Linked DNA regions of Homo sapiens: region 1 is linked to region 2. Evidence: fine-mapped expression QTL. A gene starts in region 2. The other region holds a variant in brackets. All regions are shown on one strand. Distances are between the middles of the regions.

Region 1 (8,946 bases), 130 kb before region 2:
TTAAGAAAAATCTAGATATTCAATGATTCTTTTAAAAATCTAATTTAGTAAGTACTTACATAATATTTATTCAATTTTGTCCTATATAACAAACCATTGGTCATTCCAGGCCATGTGGAGATCTTGGTTAGTTTACATCTCATTTTCCTGCTTCACAACGTTAACTGCAGGTTGACCAAGCAAGATACAGTGTCAATTGACTCTTAACTCAGTGTCAGATTATACTTTGCAAGACTCAAAAAAGGGTGAGGAACGGAGAATGTTCTGTTTACGCGATCACTAACACTCTAATGTCATTTTAAAAATGAAATAATTTCACACCCGTAATCCCATCACTTTGGGAGGCCGAGGCAGGCAGATCACAAGGTCAGGAGATCGAGACCATCCTGGCTAACACGGTGAAACCCTGCCTCTACTAAAAATACAAAAAATTAGCTGGGCGTGGTGGCAGGCGCCTGTAGTCCCAGTTACTCGGGAGGCTGAGGCAGGAGAATGGCGTGAACCCAGGAGGCGGAGCTTGCAGTGGGCCGAGATCGCGCCACTGCACTCCAGCCTGGGCAGTAGAGCAAGACTCCGTCTCAAAAAAAAAAAAAAAAAAAAAAAAAAGAAGAAAGAATTGTTTTTTTTTTTCTCTTGCTCCTTGTTTAAAAGTACATTTTTAAGCCTGAAATTAAGCCTAATATTCAATATGACTATGAACACATCACTCAAAATCCATGGTAACAATTCAGTCTTTAATATTCATTCATGTCACAAATTTAATTGTACAAGTTAAAGGTAAACATTGTTTAATGGTACAAAAATATAAACAATGAATCACAAAAGACTTGTGGTAAAATATAGTCATGGGATACCTAACCATACCTGACATTTTTTGAGTGCTTTCTTTGTGTTAAATCATTTAATCCTCTCAACAACCTTAAGACAGGTAGTTTTATTAAACATATTTTATAGATGAGGAACTTGCACAGAGAGGTGCACTAATCCCTTTATTTAACAGATGAGGTATTTTTATTGCTAATTGATAACTATAAGCATACTGAATGAATAAAGAAGAATCAAATAGCAATAAAAAATGATGCAGGCGATATCGCCACTGATCCCACAGATAAAACAATAAAAAATGATAATAAACCAATAAAAAATGATACAGGGGATATCGCCACTGATCCCACAGAAATACAACTACCATCAGAGAATACTATAAACACCTCTACGCAAATAAACTAGAAAATCTAGAAGAAATGGAAAAATTCCTGGACACATACACCCTCCCAAGACTAAACCAGGAAGAAGTTGAATTTTTGAATAGACCAATAACACGTTCTGAAATTGAGGCAGTAATAAATAGCCTACCAACCAAAAAAAGCCCAGGACCAGATGGACTCAAAGCCAAATTCTACCAGAGGTACAAAGAGGAGCTGGTACCATTCCTTCTGAAACTATCCCAAATAATTGAAAAGGAAGGACTCCTCCCTAACTCATTTTATGAGGCCAGCATCATCCTGATACCAAATCCTGGCAGAGACACAACAAAAAACTTCAGGCCAGTATCCCTGACGAACATCAATGCAAAAATCCTCAATAAAATACTGGCAAACTGAATCCAGCAGCATATCAAAAAGCTTATCCACCACCATCAAGTCAGCTTCATCCCTGGGAAGCAAGGTTGGTTCAACATATGTAAATCAATAAATGTCATCCATCACATAAACAGAACCAATGACAAAAACCACATGATTCTCTCAATAAATGCAGAAAAGGCCTTCGAAAAAATGCAATATCCCTTTATGTTAGAAACTCTCAATAAACTAGGTATTGATGGAACATATCTCAAAATAATAAGAGTTATTTATGACAAACACAGCCAATATCATACTGAATGGGCAAAAGCTGGAAGCATTCCTTTTGAAAACCGGCACAAGACAAGAATGTACTCTTACCACTCCTATTCAACATAGTACTGGAAGTTCTGGCCAGGGCAATCAGGCAAGAGAAAGAAAGAAAGGATATTTAAATAGGAAGAGACAAAGTCAAACTGTCTCTGTCTGTAGACAACATGATCCTATATTTAGAAAACCCTATTGTCTCAGCCCAAAAACTCTTTAAACTGATAAGCAACTTCAGCAAAGTCTCAGAATACAAAATCTATATGCAAAAATCACAAGCATTCCTATACATCAATAGACAAGCAGAGAGCCAAATCATGAATGAACTCCCAATCACAACTGCTACAGAGAATAAAATACCTAGCAATACAGCTAACAAGGGAAGTGAAGGACCTCTTCAAGAACTACAAACCTTCTCCCTCTCCCTCTCCCTCTCCCACTCCCTCTGCCTCTCCCTCTCCCTCTTTCCACGGTCTCCCTCTGATGCCGAGCCGAAGCTGGACTGTACTGCTGCCATCTCGGCTCACTGCAACCTCCCTGCCTGATTCTCCTGCCTCAGCCTGCCGAGTGCCTGCGATTGCAGGCGCGCGCCGCCACGCCTGACTGGTTTTCGTATTTTTTGGGTGGAGACGGGGTTTCGCTGTGTTGGCCAGGCTGGTCTCCAGCTCCTAACCGCGAGTGATCCGCCAGCCTCGGCCTCCCGAGGTGCCGGGATTGCAGACGGAGTCTCCTTCACTCAGTGCTCATTGGTGCCCAGGCTGGAGTGCAGTGGCGTGATCTCGGCTCGCTACAACATCCACCTCCCAGCAGCCTGCCTTGGCCTCCCAAAGTGCCGAGATTGCAGCCTCTGCCTGGCCGCCACCCGGTCTGGGAGGTGAGGAGCGTCTCTGCCTGGCCGCCCATCGTCTGGGATGTGAGGAGCCCCTCTGCCTGGCTGCCCAGTCTGGAAAGTGAGGAGCGTCTCTGCCCAGCCGCCATCCCATCTAGGAAGTGAGGAGCGCCTCTTCCCTGCCGCCATCCCATCTAGGAAGTGAGGAGCGTCTCTGTCCGGCCGCCCATCGTCTGAGATGCGGGGAGCGCCTCTGCCCTGTCGCCCCGTCCGGGATGTGAGGAGCGTCTCTGCCCGGCCGCCCCGTCTGAGAAGTGAGGAGACCCTCTGCCTGGCAACCGCCCTGTCTGAGAAGTGAGGAGCCCCTCCGCCCAGCAGCCGCCCTGTCTGAGAAGTGAGGAGCCCCTCCGCCCGGCAGCCACCCCGTCTGGGAAGTGAGGAGTGTCTCCGCCCGGCAGCCACCCCGTCCGGGAGGGAGATGGGGGGGTCAGACCCTCGCCTGGCCAGCCGCCCCATCCGGGAGGGAGGTGGGGGGATCAGCCCCCTGCCCGGCCAGCCGCCCCGTCCGGGAGGCGAGGGGCGCCTCTGCCCGGCCGCCCCTACTGGAAAATGAGGAGCCCCTCTGCCCAGCCAGCCGCCCCGTCTGGGAGGGAGGTGGGGGGGTCAGCCCCCCGCCCGGCCAGCCGCCCAGTCCGGGAGGGAGGTGGGGGGGTCAGCCCCCCGCCTGGCCAGCCGCCCCGTCCAGGAGGTGAGGGGAGCCTCTGCCTGGCCGCCCCTACTGGGAAGTGAGGAGCCCCTCTGCCCGGCCAGCCGCCCCGTCCGGGAGGGAGGTGGGGGGGGGTCAGCCCCCCGCCTGGCCAGCCGCCCCGTCCGGGAGGGAGGTGGGGGGGGGGTCAGCCCCCCGCCTGGCCAGCCGCCTCGTCCGGGAGGGAGGTGGGGGGGGTCAGCCCCCCGCCCGGCCAGCCGCCCCGTCCGGGGGAGGGGGGGTCAGCCCCCCGCCCGGCCAGCCGCCCCATCCGGGAGGCGAGGGGAGCCTCTGCCCTGCCGCCCCTACTGGGAAGTGAGGAGCCCCTCTGCCCGGCCAGCTGCCCCGTCCGGGAGGGAGGTGGGGGGGGTCAGCCCCCCGCCCGGCCAGCCACCCCGTCTGGGAGGGAGGTGGGGGGGTCAGCCCCCCACCCGGCCAGCCACCCTGTCCGGGAGGTGAGGGGCGCCTCTGCCCGGCCGCCCCTACTGGGAAGTGAGGAGCCCCTCTGCCCGGCCAGCCGCCCCGTCCGGGAGGGAGGTGGGGGGGGTCAGCCCCCCGCCCGGCCAGCCACCCCGTCTGGGAGGGAGGTGGGGGGGTCAGCCCCCCACCCGGCCAGCCACCCTGTCCGGGAGGTGAGGGGCGCCTCTGCCCTGCCGCCCCTACTGGGAAGTGAGGAGCCCCTCTGCCCGGCCAGCTGCCCCGTCCGGGAGGTGAGGGGAGCCTCTGCCCTGCCGCCCCTACTGGGAAGTGAGGAGCCCCTCTGCCCGGCCAGCTGCCCCGTCCGGGAGGGAGGTGGGGGGGGTCAGCCCCCCGCCCGGCCAGCCACCCCGTCTGGGAGGGAGGTGGGGGGGTCAGCCCCCCACCCGGCCAGCCACCCTGTCCGGGAGGTGAGGGGCGCCTCTGCCCGGCCGCCCCTACTGGGAAGTGAGGAGCCCCTCTGCCCGGCCACCACCCCGTCTGGGAGGTTTACCCAACAGCTCATTGAGAACGGGCCAGGATGACAATGGCGGTTTTGTGGAATAGAAAGGGGGGAAAGGTGGGGAAAAGATTGAGAAATCGGATGGTTGCCGTGTCTGTGTAGAAAGAGGTAGACATGGGAGACTTTTCATTTTGTTCTGTACTAAGAAAAATTCTTCTTCCTTGGGATCCTGTTGATCTGTGACCTTACCCCCAACCCGGTGCTCTCTGAAACATGTGCTGTGTCCACTCAGGGTTAAATGGATTAAGGGCGGTGCAAGATGTGCTTTGTTAAACAGACGCTTGAAGGCAGCATGCTCGTTAAGAGTCATCACCACTCCCTAATCTCAAGTACCCAGGGACACAAACACTGAGGAAGGCCGCAGGGTCCTCTGCCTAGGAAAACCAGAGACCTTTGTTCACTTGTTTATCTGCTGACCTTCCCTCCACTATTGTCCTGTGACCCTGCCAAATCCCCCTCTGCGAGAAACACCCAAGAATGATCAATAAAAAAATAAATAAACCAAAAAAAAAAAAAAAAAAACCAAAAAAACAATACCAGGGCATAGGCCCCACCCTAAAACCATTAAATCAGAATCAGAATCAGAAATTCTGAGGGCAAAAACCTGGATCCAGACAAGTGTATCTAAAAGTTCTCCAGGTATTTCTCATGTGCAACCAGGATTAAGAATCACTAATGCCAGGTGCAGTGGCTCATCCCTGTAGTCCCAGCACTTTGGGAGGCCGAGGCGGGTGGATCACGAGGTCAGGAGGTCGAGACCAGCCTGGCCAATATTGTGAAACCCTGTCTCTACTAAAAATACAAAAACTAGCCGGGCGTGGTGGTGTGTGCCTATAGTCCCAGCTACTCGGGAGGCTGAGGCAGGAGAATCACTTGAACCCAGGAGGCGGAGGTTGCAGTGAGCTGAGATTTCGCCACTGCACTCCAGGCTGGGCAATAGAGGGACACTTTGCCCCAGAAAAAAAAAAAAAAAAAGAATCACTAACCTGGTTCAGCCTTTTCATTTGGCAGATGAGAAAACTGAGGACTCAGAAATTAAATAACTTGCCTAAGATGGTAGAGCTCTCTTCAAACAGGTAACTGTAACATAGACTGGCTATGCACTAGTACGGTATTTTTCAAAATTAAAGTAATGCTTCATTAGTAAATTGTAAAAATAAATTTAGTGCATCCTGACCAGAATTTATTTGGAACAGAATAAAAAATATCAGAGTACAAAT[CAA/C]AAAAAAAAAAAAAAAAAAAAAGAACTACAAACCTATTTAAGAAATCGTACTGGGAAAACTCGCTAGCCATATGCAGAAAACTGAAACTGGACCCCTTTCTTACACCTTATACACAAATTTACTCAAGATGGATTAAAGACTTAAATGTAAAACCCAAAACCATAAAAATCCTAGAAGAAAATCTAGGCAATACCATTCAGGACATAGGCATGGGAGAAGATTTTATGAAGAAATCGCCACAAGCAATTCCAACAAAAGCTAAAACTGACAACTGGGATCTAGTTAAACTAAAGAGCTGCACAGCAAAAGAAACTATCATCAGAGCGAACAGACAACCAACCTATAGAATGAGAGAAAATTTTTGCAATTTACCTATGGACAAAGGTCTAAGATCCAGAATTTACATGGGACTTAAATTTACCAGATAAAAACAAACAACCCCATCAAAAAGTGGGCAAAGGACATAAACAGACACTTCTCAAAAGAAGGTATTTATGCAACCAACAAAAATATGAAAAAAATCTCAACTTCACTGATCATTAGAGAAATGCAAATCAAAACCACAAAGAGATACCATCTCATGCCGGTCAGAATGGCGATTATTAAAAAGTCAAGAAACAACACATGTTGGCAAGGATGTGGAGAAATAGGAACACTTTTACACTGTTGGTGGGAATGTAAATTAGTTCAACCATTGTGGAAGACAGTGTGGAGCTTCCTCAAGGATCTAGAACTAGAAATACCATTTGACTCAGCAATTCCATTACTGGGTATATACCCAAAGGAATATAAATCATTCTATTATAAAGACACATGCAAATGTATGTTTACTGCAGCACTATTCACAATAGCAAAAACATAGAACCAACCAAAATGCCCATCAATGATAGACTGGATAAAGAAAATGTACATATACACCATGGAATACTATGCAGCCATTAAAAGGAATGAGATCATGTCCTTTGCAGGGACATGGATCAAGCTGGAAGCCATCATCCTCAGCAAACTAATGCAGGAACAGAAAACCAAACACTGCATGTTCTTACTCGTAAGTGGGAGCTGAACAATGAGAACACATGGACACAGGGAGGGGACCAACACACATCATGGCCTGTTGCGGGGGCGGTGAGGGGAGGAAAGAGCATTAGGACAAATAGCTAATGCATGAGGGGCTTAATACCTAGGTGACAGGTTGGTAGGTGCAGCAAACCACCATGGCACATGTTTACCTATGTAACAAACCTGCACATTCTGCACATGTATCCCGGAATGTAGAGTAAAATAAAATTAAAAAAAAAAAAAGTAAACTGAATGCTTGTATTGTAACCAAAATTACATCATTAAATTTTTTCCTAATATTTATAAAAATAATTAAGAATTATCAATTTTCCATTAAAAGGACTCTTAAGACTTACCTAGACCCATAATGTTATTTTAGTGAGTCTTAGTATTCAAATATTATAAATGACAATAAAGGATATGGGAATTTTGGGAGGTCCCAAAGACATGGTAGAATTACATTGCCTTAAAAGTATTAATCAAACAAAACATTTGCTAGACAATCTGAAAGACAAATGAAGTACAAGTAATATGGTCAAATATCTAATTAGCTTGAGCCTTAGAAAGTGGAAAAGTTGTTGTAATCCTCCCTTATTTTTAAGGAGTAAATAGATCTTAAGACTCTGGAGAGAAAACTCTTCAAAAGTGCCTGACCCTAACCATAAAGAAATTGGTCTTTTCCAGTTGAGTGTGGTGGCTCATGCCTGTATTCCTAGCGCTCTGGGAGGCCGAGGTGGGCGACTGCCTGAGCTCAGGAGTTCAGGACCAGCCTGGGCAACCTGGTGAAACCCTGTCTCTATTAAAAATACAGAAAAAAAAAATTAACTGGGCATGGTGGTGGGCGCCTGTAATCCCAGTTACTTGGGAGGCTGAGGCAGGAGAAATGCTTTAACCCGGGAGGTGGAGGTTGCAGTGATCAGAGATCACGCCACTGCACTCCAGCCTAGGCAACAGAGTGAGATTCTGTCTCCAAAAAAAAAAAAAAAACAAACAACAACAACAAAAAAACAACAGAAAAGGAAAAGAAAAAGAAAAAAGAAATTTATCGTTTTCGTATTGTTCTGTGTTTTGGGCAGAACAATGATATAGTATGTTGAACAATGATAGTAGTACTAGTAAGCTGATCTTAGACTAGGATCATACTAATATATCACCTTTGAAACTCATTGATAATGCTTTTTTTTGTGGTAACTACACAATGAACAATATATCTGAAAGATTACTTTGCTTGAAGTCAAAACTAAAGAAGAGTTAAATTATTTATATATAAAAAAACTATCATATATGACCCTCCTTAACCAGGACTTGCCTTTCCTTTCCATCATTTTGGCTAATAATCCTACAAAAAAGATTCAGTCATGGTGAATCATGATTCACAGGTTAAGAACCTTAACCTGAAGTTTATAAATTGCTAATAAAAAAAATCCCATAGTTTATGAAGTCATCTGATAAATCCTCAAGATTTTAAAAAGAAATTTGTGTCTTTACTTAATCACAGTAAAAAGTAAATCTTAAAGGCTTGAGTTCTCATGGCCTATGAAGAAGCCATTTAAAATGACTATTCTTTTTTTATTTTTATTTTATTTTTGAGACAGAGTCTCGCTCTGTTGCCCAGCCTTGAGTGCAATGGCGTGATTTCTGCTCACTGCAACCTCCACCTCTGGGTTCAAGCAATTCTCCTGCCTCAGCCTCCCGAGTAGCTGGGATTATAAGCGCCCACCACCATGCCCAGCTTAATTTTTTGTATTTTTACTAGAGACAGGGATTTGCCATGTTGGCCAGGCTGGTCTCGAACTCCTGACCTCAGGTGATCTGCCTGCCTCGGCCTCCCAAAGTGCTGGCATTACAGGGGTGAGCCGCTGGGATTACAGGGGTGAGCCTCTGTGCCCAGCTAAAATAACTATTCTTTTTTTATTGTATGATTCCATTTATATGAAATATCCACAGTACAGAAATCCATACAGACAGAAAGATTTATAGTTGACACGTGTGTGGTGGAAGGGGAAACTGGGGCTGTCTGCTTAGTGTATTCAGGCTTTTAAAAAATGACTATTCTTTTGGTGAATTTGGATTGTTATTTTTAAAGCAAAGACACACACACACATATGTGATAAATATATTGATCATACTCTACATATAGTATGAGCTCTCTTTGTATACATACTTTCATTTTTGGATTGCCTGAGGTCTCCGTTGTTTTAAATTAACTGCATATAGGCCCG
Region 2 (8,946 bases):
CGCACGATGCCACACCTGGATAATTTTTTGGATTTCAGTAGAGACGGGGTTTCACCGTGTTGCCCAGGCTGGTCGCAAACTCCTGAACTCAGGCAATCTGCCCACCTTGACCTCCCAAAGTGTTAGGATTACAGGCGTGAGCCACTGCGCCTAGTGTGCCTCCAATTTATTATTTTGGATTTTGGAATACTTGCATATGTGTAATGAGCATCTTAGGGATGTAACCCAAGTCTAAACAAGAAATTCATTTATGTTTCATATACACCTTATACACATAACCTGAAGGTAATTTTTATACAATTTTTTTTTTAACGGAGTTTTGCTCTTGTTGCCCAGACTGGAGTGCAATGGTGCAATCTCGGCTCACAGCAACCTCCGCCTCCTGGGTTCAAGCGATTCTCCTGCCTCAGCCTCCCGAGTAGCCAGGATTACAGGTGGGCACCACCACCCTCGGCTAATTTTTTGTATTTTTAGTAGAGACGGGGTTTCACCATGGCCAGGCTGGTCTTGAACTCCTGACCTCAGGTGATCCGCCCGCCTCAGCCTCCCAGAGTGCTGGGATTACAGGTGTGAGCCACCGCGCCTGGCCTATACAATATTTTAAATAATTTTGTGTGTGATACAATGAAGTCAGGTGTGGAATTTTTCACTTGTGGCACTAAAAACGTTTGGGATTTTGGAGTGTTTCAGATTCTGGAGCATCTTGAATTCTGGGGGATTTTGGATTAGGGATGATCAACCTGTATCTATGTTACAGCCTCACTGCAAATATGTTATTCACTCCCACTCATGTAGGTATGATCTCAATTCACAAACAGGCAGAAACCATCTCAATCCTATTTTTTCCACAGCAATTTTATTCTATCAGGGTTTCAAGTAAAACTGCCTTAAAAAGGTAAATAAAAGGACTTAGTAAATGTGTTTACTGTTGCTTACACTAAAAAATTTTCACTAAACTACGAAGACACTGAGAGATAAGAGGAAGGGAAAACTTGCTTTGGTATTTCTTTTTTTTTTTTTTTTTTTTTTGAAGTAACCAAAGAGGGGTACAATTTAAGCTAAAAGAAGTTTGCAGTTAGGTTGGGTTGTGGCCTTGTTTTAGGTAAAAATACATGGGTTACTAGTTTTCTTTTTTTTTTTTTAACAACAAAAAGCTAATTTTGGAATTCTACTTTTTAGAAAATACAAATAACCTTACAGCATATTCAATACTAAAGCACATGCCTACTAAGAAATCTCCTTTCTAGTGAATAGTGTCAGTGATTTGGACCTTTTGTCTATGGAGTAAGAATGAGTAAGGGTAAGAAACATGCAAGCTTGTTAACCTAGAGTTAACTTGAAGGTATTCATAACCATATTATAGAAACATAACAACATTGTCAATTTTGTACTAACCTTATTTTCTATAATTACCTTTAAAATATATTTCCAACTCTTTTCCACTCAACTTTGAATGCTTTTTTTCCAGACTCATTTAATGCCTGATATTTCAATGCACATACTTTTATCAAACCATATTTCAGTTTAATAAACAGAGTAAATTATGAACTGATAACTTATTGTCCAAAGGCCTACATCACATACTATATTTATATTTGTAGAGTAGGAGGACAAGTACAGACTTGTTTGTGATATGCAAGCCCAGTAATTTAGAAACTATGATAAACCAAATGCAAAACCCATTTGATAATTTTTAAATGTCACATTTCTTTTGAGTGTAATTTTAAACTCTCATTAATAATGGCACCAAAGGATGATTCAGGAAGTAGTACAAAACTGATAGTCTCTCAGAATATTATCAGGTGATAAAATAATTTGTAAAATAATATTATTGTCTCAAAAATGTGAAATATCTAACTGCAATCATCTATTAAAAATGATTTAATACATATATACTATTTCTTAGGAATATATGGTAGTAAAGGAGTTTTCACTTTTGATATCTTTATTTTACATAGTCACTTGATGAATAATATAAATCCATTCTTGTGGAGCAGGGGGTATGACACTATTAAGTATATTTACTAATTTTGTTTATTATCTACAAATGTTGTTTATTCCGAAATTTTAAGTATATAAAAATCATTTTTGCAAATAGGATTTCTAAAGTTGATCATTAGATGCCAATAAGTGTATCATTACAATTTTAAAACAAAAATATAAATTTTCATATTTTGGGATTCACGTGTTTGCTGCCCATTATTTTTTCAGAGCAAGTACCAAAAACTGGAGTGCACTCTACTTCAGAAGTTTTTCTCATGTTAAAGTCAGAGCAGTTAGGCTGTAATGGATGTGCCAATATAAAAAAAAATTAAATTTACACATTATTTGCCAAAAAGTGCACTCGACTATCATCATTATTCAAACATTTCAGTCAGTTGCCTCCACAACTCACTTATTTTAAAACTATAAAGTGAAGATTCCTTTCCCCTCTTGTTCTCATAATCAATTAAAATATACATTACTCATTCAACTTTTAAAATTTGTCTCTCTTAAAAGATTTTAGTCCATTAACTTGGATTTCCCACATCTGAATGTAAAACCAAGGTGCTTAATTCAATTTAATGATGATTTCAGAAACACAAAGTTACGTCACGTTACTAGAGGTTAAAAACACACACACATACACACTGGTTTTGTGAAAACCTTGATGGCAAGCAAGATATTCACCATCTCTTCTTTTAAATTATAGCTTTAAAAAGGGGGTGAGGGTATCCATTGAAGAATAAAGCCTGCTTTCTGTCACACACACACACACACACCCCAATCATATCTATCAGACCTATTCAAGTTGCCACAACATGACTATTGTCAAAGCCAAAAAAATTCTCCTTTAAAATATTTAAACTTCATTTTAAAATTAAAACTGAAAGCAAGATACTCAACTGCCAACTACTGTTGATGAAACTATTAAAGCCTGCACTGACCTACTTCATATCAGCATCATGACGGCATGGATGCATGCCAAGAAAATAATGAAAATTACTATATAACTAACCTAAATCTTGTATTTAAAAATTGTCACTTTAAAAATGTGCAAATACTGTTCATGCAACGCCAGTTGCTTTACGATATGTTTTCAAAATGAGAAAATGAGTTTTGATATTTTAGTACTCATATTCAATGATGGCCCTGCAAAGATTTCATTTCCATTTTCAAAATCAAGGCTTTTTAAAATACCATATAAAATTCTTTTTAAACTTCTATTAAAAGCAATCTTAGACCAAATTCCAAATATTACTTTCCATTTAAAAAATATTGCTACACTTAAAAAAGGCAGTTAATGAAGCATCCTACAAAACAATGCAAGTTCATGTTCAAAGAATATTGCAATGGCTCTAACAGTGGATGGACTTAGTGTATTTAATTATTAAAAGATTCCCACTAGACTTTAGGAGTTTAATGCTGAAATATTGGAAATTTTCATACAAGAAAGTAAAATAGCGAAAGATATTCCATCAATGGTTTCTTTTAAAAAGACATACAAATGGCAAGACATTTGATTCCCTATATTTTAATTTAAAAAAAAACCACTTTGTTGTAAACTACCATCTTAAAATATTTTATACTAAAAAAGCACTTTCTTCACAATCAATGCAAAGAATAAACTCCCTGAAAAAGAAATTTAATATTAGGATAAGGGAGGCAAAAACATTCAGAAATAGCAGCTAACCCAACTGAAAGGAAGAGACACATTAGGTTTTGTGCTGCATATTAATATTCTTACGCACAGTATCTGTTTGGTGAAAATTCACAATACACTTCTTCCTCCTTCTATGGCTGCAAAAAGGAGTAAACACATTTCACATTCTCCAGTTCCAAATTCATGCCACCATCATGCAATATGACTTAATTTCGACCCATATTTCTGTTACAATGAGTGAAAAAATAAAACCAAAAAACTTGTTTATCTGCACTCACAATTGAGGAAGGGGTAAAAGCATTTTTTAGCTAAGAAGACAGGGGCTGATTGATGCAAAGTCCGCACACCTCCAGAGATCCTACAAATGTGCACCCGACTGGGGAAAGCCACATTCAATGAATGCATCAGCCTCCTCCTCCGCTCCCCCCGCCCGCCGCCCCCCACCCACTTTGCAGCAGAAATGTGCCTGGGCTTTTTCACGCGAGCGATGGAGGATCCTCTTACCAGATGGAGTTCTTGATCTTGTGTTGCAGCGCGCTGGCCTCTGTCCCTGGCAGCCCGGGCACAAGGGCTGGCAGGGCCACCCCCGAGTTGGGGGCGCTGGGGGGAAGCTGCTGATGGGCATCAGGCTGCTGTGGTGGCGGCTGTTGTTGTTCCTCTGCCATCGCTGCAGAGGGGTGGGAGGGAGGGAGGGAAAGATGGGGGCGCGGGGAAGGGTGAGGGAAGAGACCGGGAGGGGAGGACGAAGGGGGGAGAGGAGGAGGGGGAGGGGGAGGGGAAGAGGAGGAGGAGGAGGAAGGAAGCTGGATAAGCTAGGCCTTTACCCCAGGGCTCGAGTGAGTCGCTTTCGCCTGCCGCCTGGGGAACATCACCGGGGAGACCAGCGGCTCCTCACGGCCGGGGCGCTTCACCGCGGGAGAGGCATGGCGGCGCCCCTCAGCCCCCCGCTGGCGCCGCCGCCTCCTCCCGTCAGCGGCCGGGGCTGTGGGGGGGTGAGATGGGGGCGTTTGAAGACGAAGTGGGGGGGGCAGGCTCCCCCCAAAATCCAAGAAGAACGGTTGCTCAGGGATTTGGCGGCCAAGCCTTCCTTCCTTGTCCCCGGGGCTTTCTACTGCCGGGTCCCCGTGCTGCTGCAGCCCCAGGCACCGCTCCACGCCACTCCCCACGCCGCCGCCGCCGCCGCCGCTCGCTCCCGGCCCCGCCGCCGCCGCGGCCGCCGCTGCCCTGCCAGCCCCGGAGGCAGCCCAGTGCGCGCAGCCGCACTGCGGCCCGGCGCAGACCGCACAACACCTACCGCTCCGCCGGGGGGCGTGGACCAGGGTGTGCGGGCCGCGGGCGCGACGGGCCGGGATGGGGGCGCACGGCGCGGAGGGCGGCGCGGGCCAGCGGGCCAGGGAAGCGCGCCGCTGGGGGCCGGGAGGAGTCCGGCCCGGCTGGTGGAGAGCAGGAAAACGTGGGGGAGGTGCTGGCGAGAGAAAGAGAACTTGCGTGAGGAGGAGGAGGAGAAACCAAATTTAATAATATTTGGCGTGGAAATGGGATTTGGGCGGGGGAGGCATCTTCAAAGCAAGTAAAGAGAAATCAACATTATCCCCCTTCCCCTGCACATGCATGTGAGGATTACTTCCTCCCTGAGTAAATGAAGAGAACTGAAGCAGGTAAGACGATAAACTGACTTTTCAGAAGCCCCCAAAGAAGAACACCCGTTGGAATTAACCACCCTTTAGGTAATTCGGTCTTGAACGGAAATCGCGAGTCAGGAGCTGGGTTGAGTGCTCCTCGGTCGGGCATTCAAAGCCCTCCAAATCTGGCCCCACTTTAACTATCCAATCATAGCGGCCTCCATCCCCCTGCAAGAACTCCCGGCTCCAATCAGGGAAGTCTCCATGCCATCCTCAACGCGCAGCAGATTCATTCTTCCTTCGTGCCTTTGCTCATGCTGTTCCCCTCCACCTCCCCACCCCACCCCACCCCCTTTCCAGGAATGCCCTCCCTCCTTTATACCGCTCCCAATTCCACCCAGGCTCTAAAGCATAGCTCAAGTCGCGGCTTGTCAGGGTCCCTGCAGCCAAGGCCACTGCCTGCCTCTGAAAGAAACGCATGTAGTACTCACAACATGGAGGCTCAGGCGTCAGCCACGAGCTCCTTCCTTTGGAGCCCGTTGAACACCCGCCCTCCCCCCGCAGACTCCGCACCATTCCCCCCCTTCCCATTCATACCTAAATGATAGCTTTGCCACAAATAAGTCAGTCTCCTTTAAGAGCAGAAGAATTGGCTTTTCTAGGTGGGGCTGATCAGGGAGGCTGCGTGGATGTAGAATACAACAGCCAAGGCCTCTGGCACCAAATGGAACAGCTGTTCAGCTCACACTGACCTTTCTTTGGGCCCGTGGGTGTTATGAGCCCTTCAGCTTTAACTTTTCTGATAGAGTGTCTATCAGGTTTCTACCTGTTAGATCCTCTGGCCACTTTCCTGCTGTGTGTGGACTTTGGGCTGTGGGGCTCTGCCACCTTTTAGACTCCTAGTGGATGGTGAATCTGATTGGCTTGGGTTGCCTGGCCTTTGAGTTCTCAGTTCCCTGCCTTGGCCTGAAACCCTCTTGCTTTTGTCCACTGTGCCCTCTCTCCTGGCCCACAGACTTAAGGCCCAGACTCACACTGAATGCTTGCACGTGGTGAGGGTTGAGGGTGGGGGTGCAGGGAGGAAGAACACCTGTGTGCAAAATAAGCCGCCCCCCCGCCCCCGGGGCCTCTTGGATTACGCTGTGCTCCAACTACCCATTGCACGAGTTGCATCACACAAATGAGCCCCCTTTTCCATACTCTAAGGTCTCTATTAGCTTAGCCACTTTAGGAAACTATAGGTGGTTTACGACATTCATTTTGCATACATATCTTCATGTGGGTGTGTAAAGACAGTATTTTTGTGGACCTAATTGATAGACATGGTGTGCACTAGACAGAAGCTTTGAAGGATAAAAATAGCTAATGTTTGTTGAACACTTTGTGTGCCAGACTAGCACTTTCCATACATTATCATAGTTATTCCTCCCCAAGAGTGTATAATGTAGGTATTATTAGTCTCCCTCTGTTACAGATGAAATGGAAGCTTAGGTTAATTAACATTCTTAAAATTACCCAATTAGTAAATGCAGGAGCCAAAATTTGAGTCCTGGAAGTTTAATTCCAGAGCCTGCAAGCTATGCTGAAACTGGAATTACGCTGAAAAATCTTGAATGTAGGTATATATATACGTGTGTGTGTGTATGCCCTATATCACGTTGAGGAAAGTTGCCAAGTTCCCCAAGGTTCTAATTTTTTGCCTTGCCAAGAGAGAATGATGGCTCCAAGTTGCAACACCCTGGGAGGGGGAGATCCTTAGGAAGTGGGAGAGTCATCGAGGGGGTAACGTATCTAAGGTCTGCCAAAGGCCTTAAGAAAAGGAAGCCGAGAACCAAGACGTTTTATAAAAAGTTCGCTACCGGGTGTCACACAGGCTGGCTTCCCAAGTGCAACTTCTGAGAGTTTTTAATGGGTTCCATAAAAGAGCCAGGTCACCCCAGCAGCCACTAGAGGGCTCACGAAGCTGCAGCCGCGGGCTGCCCTCTAGCGGCGGTGCTGACCGGAGTGTGGTGGTAAACCTTTTCCGGCCTTCCAGGACCTACAGGGAGTTGAAGGAGACCAGCAATGGGAGGGGTGGCAGAGAGTATCAGACTGAGGAGACCTTATTGCCAGAGTGAGATACCCTTTCAGGGAGGAAAGGGGCAGCCCTCACTACTCACTTAACATCTGGGAGTACAGTGGGTGTTTTGTTCCAGTCTTCAGAGAAGACTGTGAATAAAATCATGACATTAAGAAATCTGATGAAGTTACCCAAAATTTTGAGTGTGGACTCAAGCCAAACCCAGGGACCCTGAATAAAGGCAGGAGTGTAGCCATGTGCTTCTCATATTATGTGGGTTCCTTTGATTGTGCAACCCTGTACTGAGGACCCTCAAGGACCCAGAATCAATGTGGCTCATTTTCTCTGAGCATCATTTTGACTCTCTGGTAAATAAGGTAAGACATTGTAGTAAGCATGACTTTTTAAGATAACACACAAGTATTACCCAACCCTGAGGAGCCTAAGTTTATTCTCTACTGGGAAAGTGTACACCAGAGGAAAATTTTGAGGAACACTGATGTAGTGGGTTAGAAAAACCTGGCCTTGGAGTCAGAAGACCTGGGAATTCAAACCCTCTGTTTCGATCTCTATAAAAATGAAAATAATGATGTACATCAGAGGGTTGCTATAAGGAAAACATGAAAAGTTATAGGTAAACCAGGGAAGTGTTGTCCACATTTAGAGAGTATCTACAAGATGGATTGTCAGCACCTCAAAGGAAATGACTATTTTATTTATCCTAGTAGTCCCAGGACATAATTCCTGACTCCTGACTATTTAATAAATATTTGTGGAATTTAGTAGTTAACTAACCCTCATTTTCCTAGCCCAATCCATTATATTGTCTTGCTCTCTTGTGTCTGTAAACCTTGTCTCCTTTATGAAACTGTAAACATTTTATACTGTCCAGACTGTAGTATATACATTTATCATGCCTGATATATAGCAGTATTGGGCACGGAAAATATGAATAAATAAGACCTGGCCCCAACTTGAAGTAGTTTACATTTTTGTGAAGTAGAGCAACATATTAACATATATAAGATGATGAGTTATAAACATATCCACTAGTGTTGTGGAGTCATAATGGAGGGAGGGATTGGTCTTGCTCAGGGTAGAAGAACTGGAGAAGGCATCATGGCTGGCATTTTAATTGGGTCTTGTTGGATGAATAGGAGTTGAGTAGGCAGAGCAACAGAGGGAAGATGATTTCAGATAAAGGGAGTAACATGAGCACTGGTGTGAAGCCATGAAAGGGTACTGTTTGCTGAAGGAATAATGCATAGCACGGTGTTGACTCTGTGATCAGATCCTAAAGTAGTATAGGCGAGGGAAAAGAAGGAGAGAGAGACAAAAACCCACTTTACAAAATGTTACTTTGCATTATAGTTAGGATCGTTCTATCAAAGGAAGGCCTGAAAGTCGGTTTCATTATTGGTACATACTGATTAAGTGCTGAAAGTATACATTTCACTTCCACAAAGTATGGTGGTTTACCAGATATGGAAAAGGTAAAGTTCTACCCTGTTCTCCTTCTTTCCCAACTTGAATATAAAAATAAAATACTCCTCTCATCCTCTTTTCCCCTGATCATTACTTCCTCTGTCTTTTTCCATTGCAAGCTTTCTCCTCTAGAAGCT

Direction of the effects. Positions count from the first base shown, and alleles are read on the strand shown. Sizes are in standard deviations (SD) of each study's normalised expression.
As copies of C replace CAA in region 1, the expression in Th17 cells of the gene that starts at base 4,902 in region 2 goes down (large effect, 0.84 SD a copy in Schmiedel 2018).

The links. PIP is the estimated chance that this variant, and not a neighbour inherited with it, causes the effect.
Region 1: its variant is fine-mapped to the expression of RFX7 in Th17 cells (Schmiedel 2018, PIP 0.95).

The regions. Positions count from the first base shown.
Region 1 is chr15:56,106,717-56,115,662 of GRCh38, forward strand. All of the region lies in intron 5 of RFX7 (regulatory factor X7), which reads right to left. Among named protein-coding and RNA genes, the nearest start is that of NEDD4, 120 kb to the left of the region's middle. The variant CAA/C (reference allele first, on the strand shown) is at 5,663.
Region 2 is chr15:56,238,978-56,247,923 of GRCh38, forward strand. RFX7 (regulatory factor X7) reads right to left here and starts at 4,902. Exons shown (of 10, transcript NM_022841.7): 1 at 4,468-4,902; 2 at 4,148-4,310. The coding sequence starts at 4,308. It overlaps LOC124903569 (laforin-like), which reads right to left and starts at 5,841. Exons shown (of 3, transcript XM_047433428.1): 1 at 5,757-5,841; 2 at 5,006-5,202; 3 at 4,374-4,905. The coding sequence starts at 5,841. The coding sequence ends at 4,456. It also overlaps a transcript of TEX9 not described here. RefSeq lists silencers at 4,428-4,497, 4,588-4,647, 4,798-5,087, 5,578-5,627 and enhancers at 4,874-5,519, 5,520-6,165, 5,878-5,927, 6,166-6,811.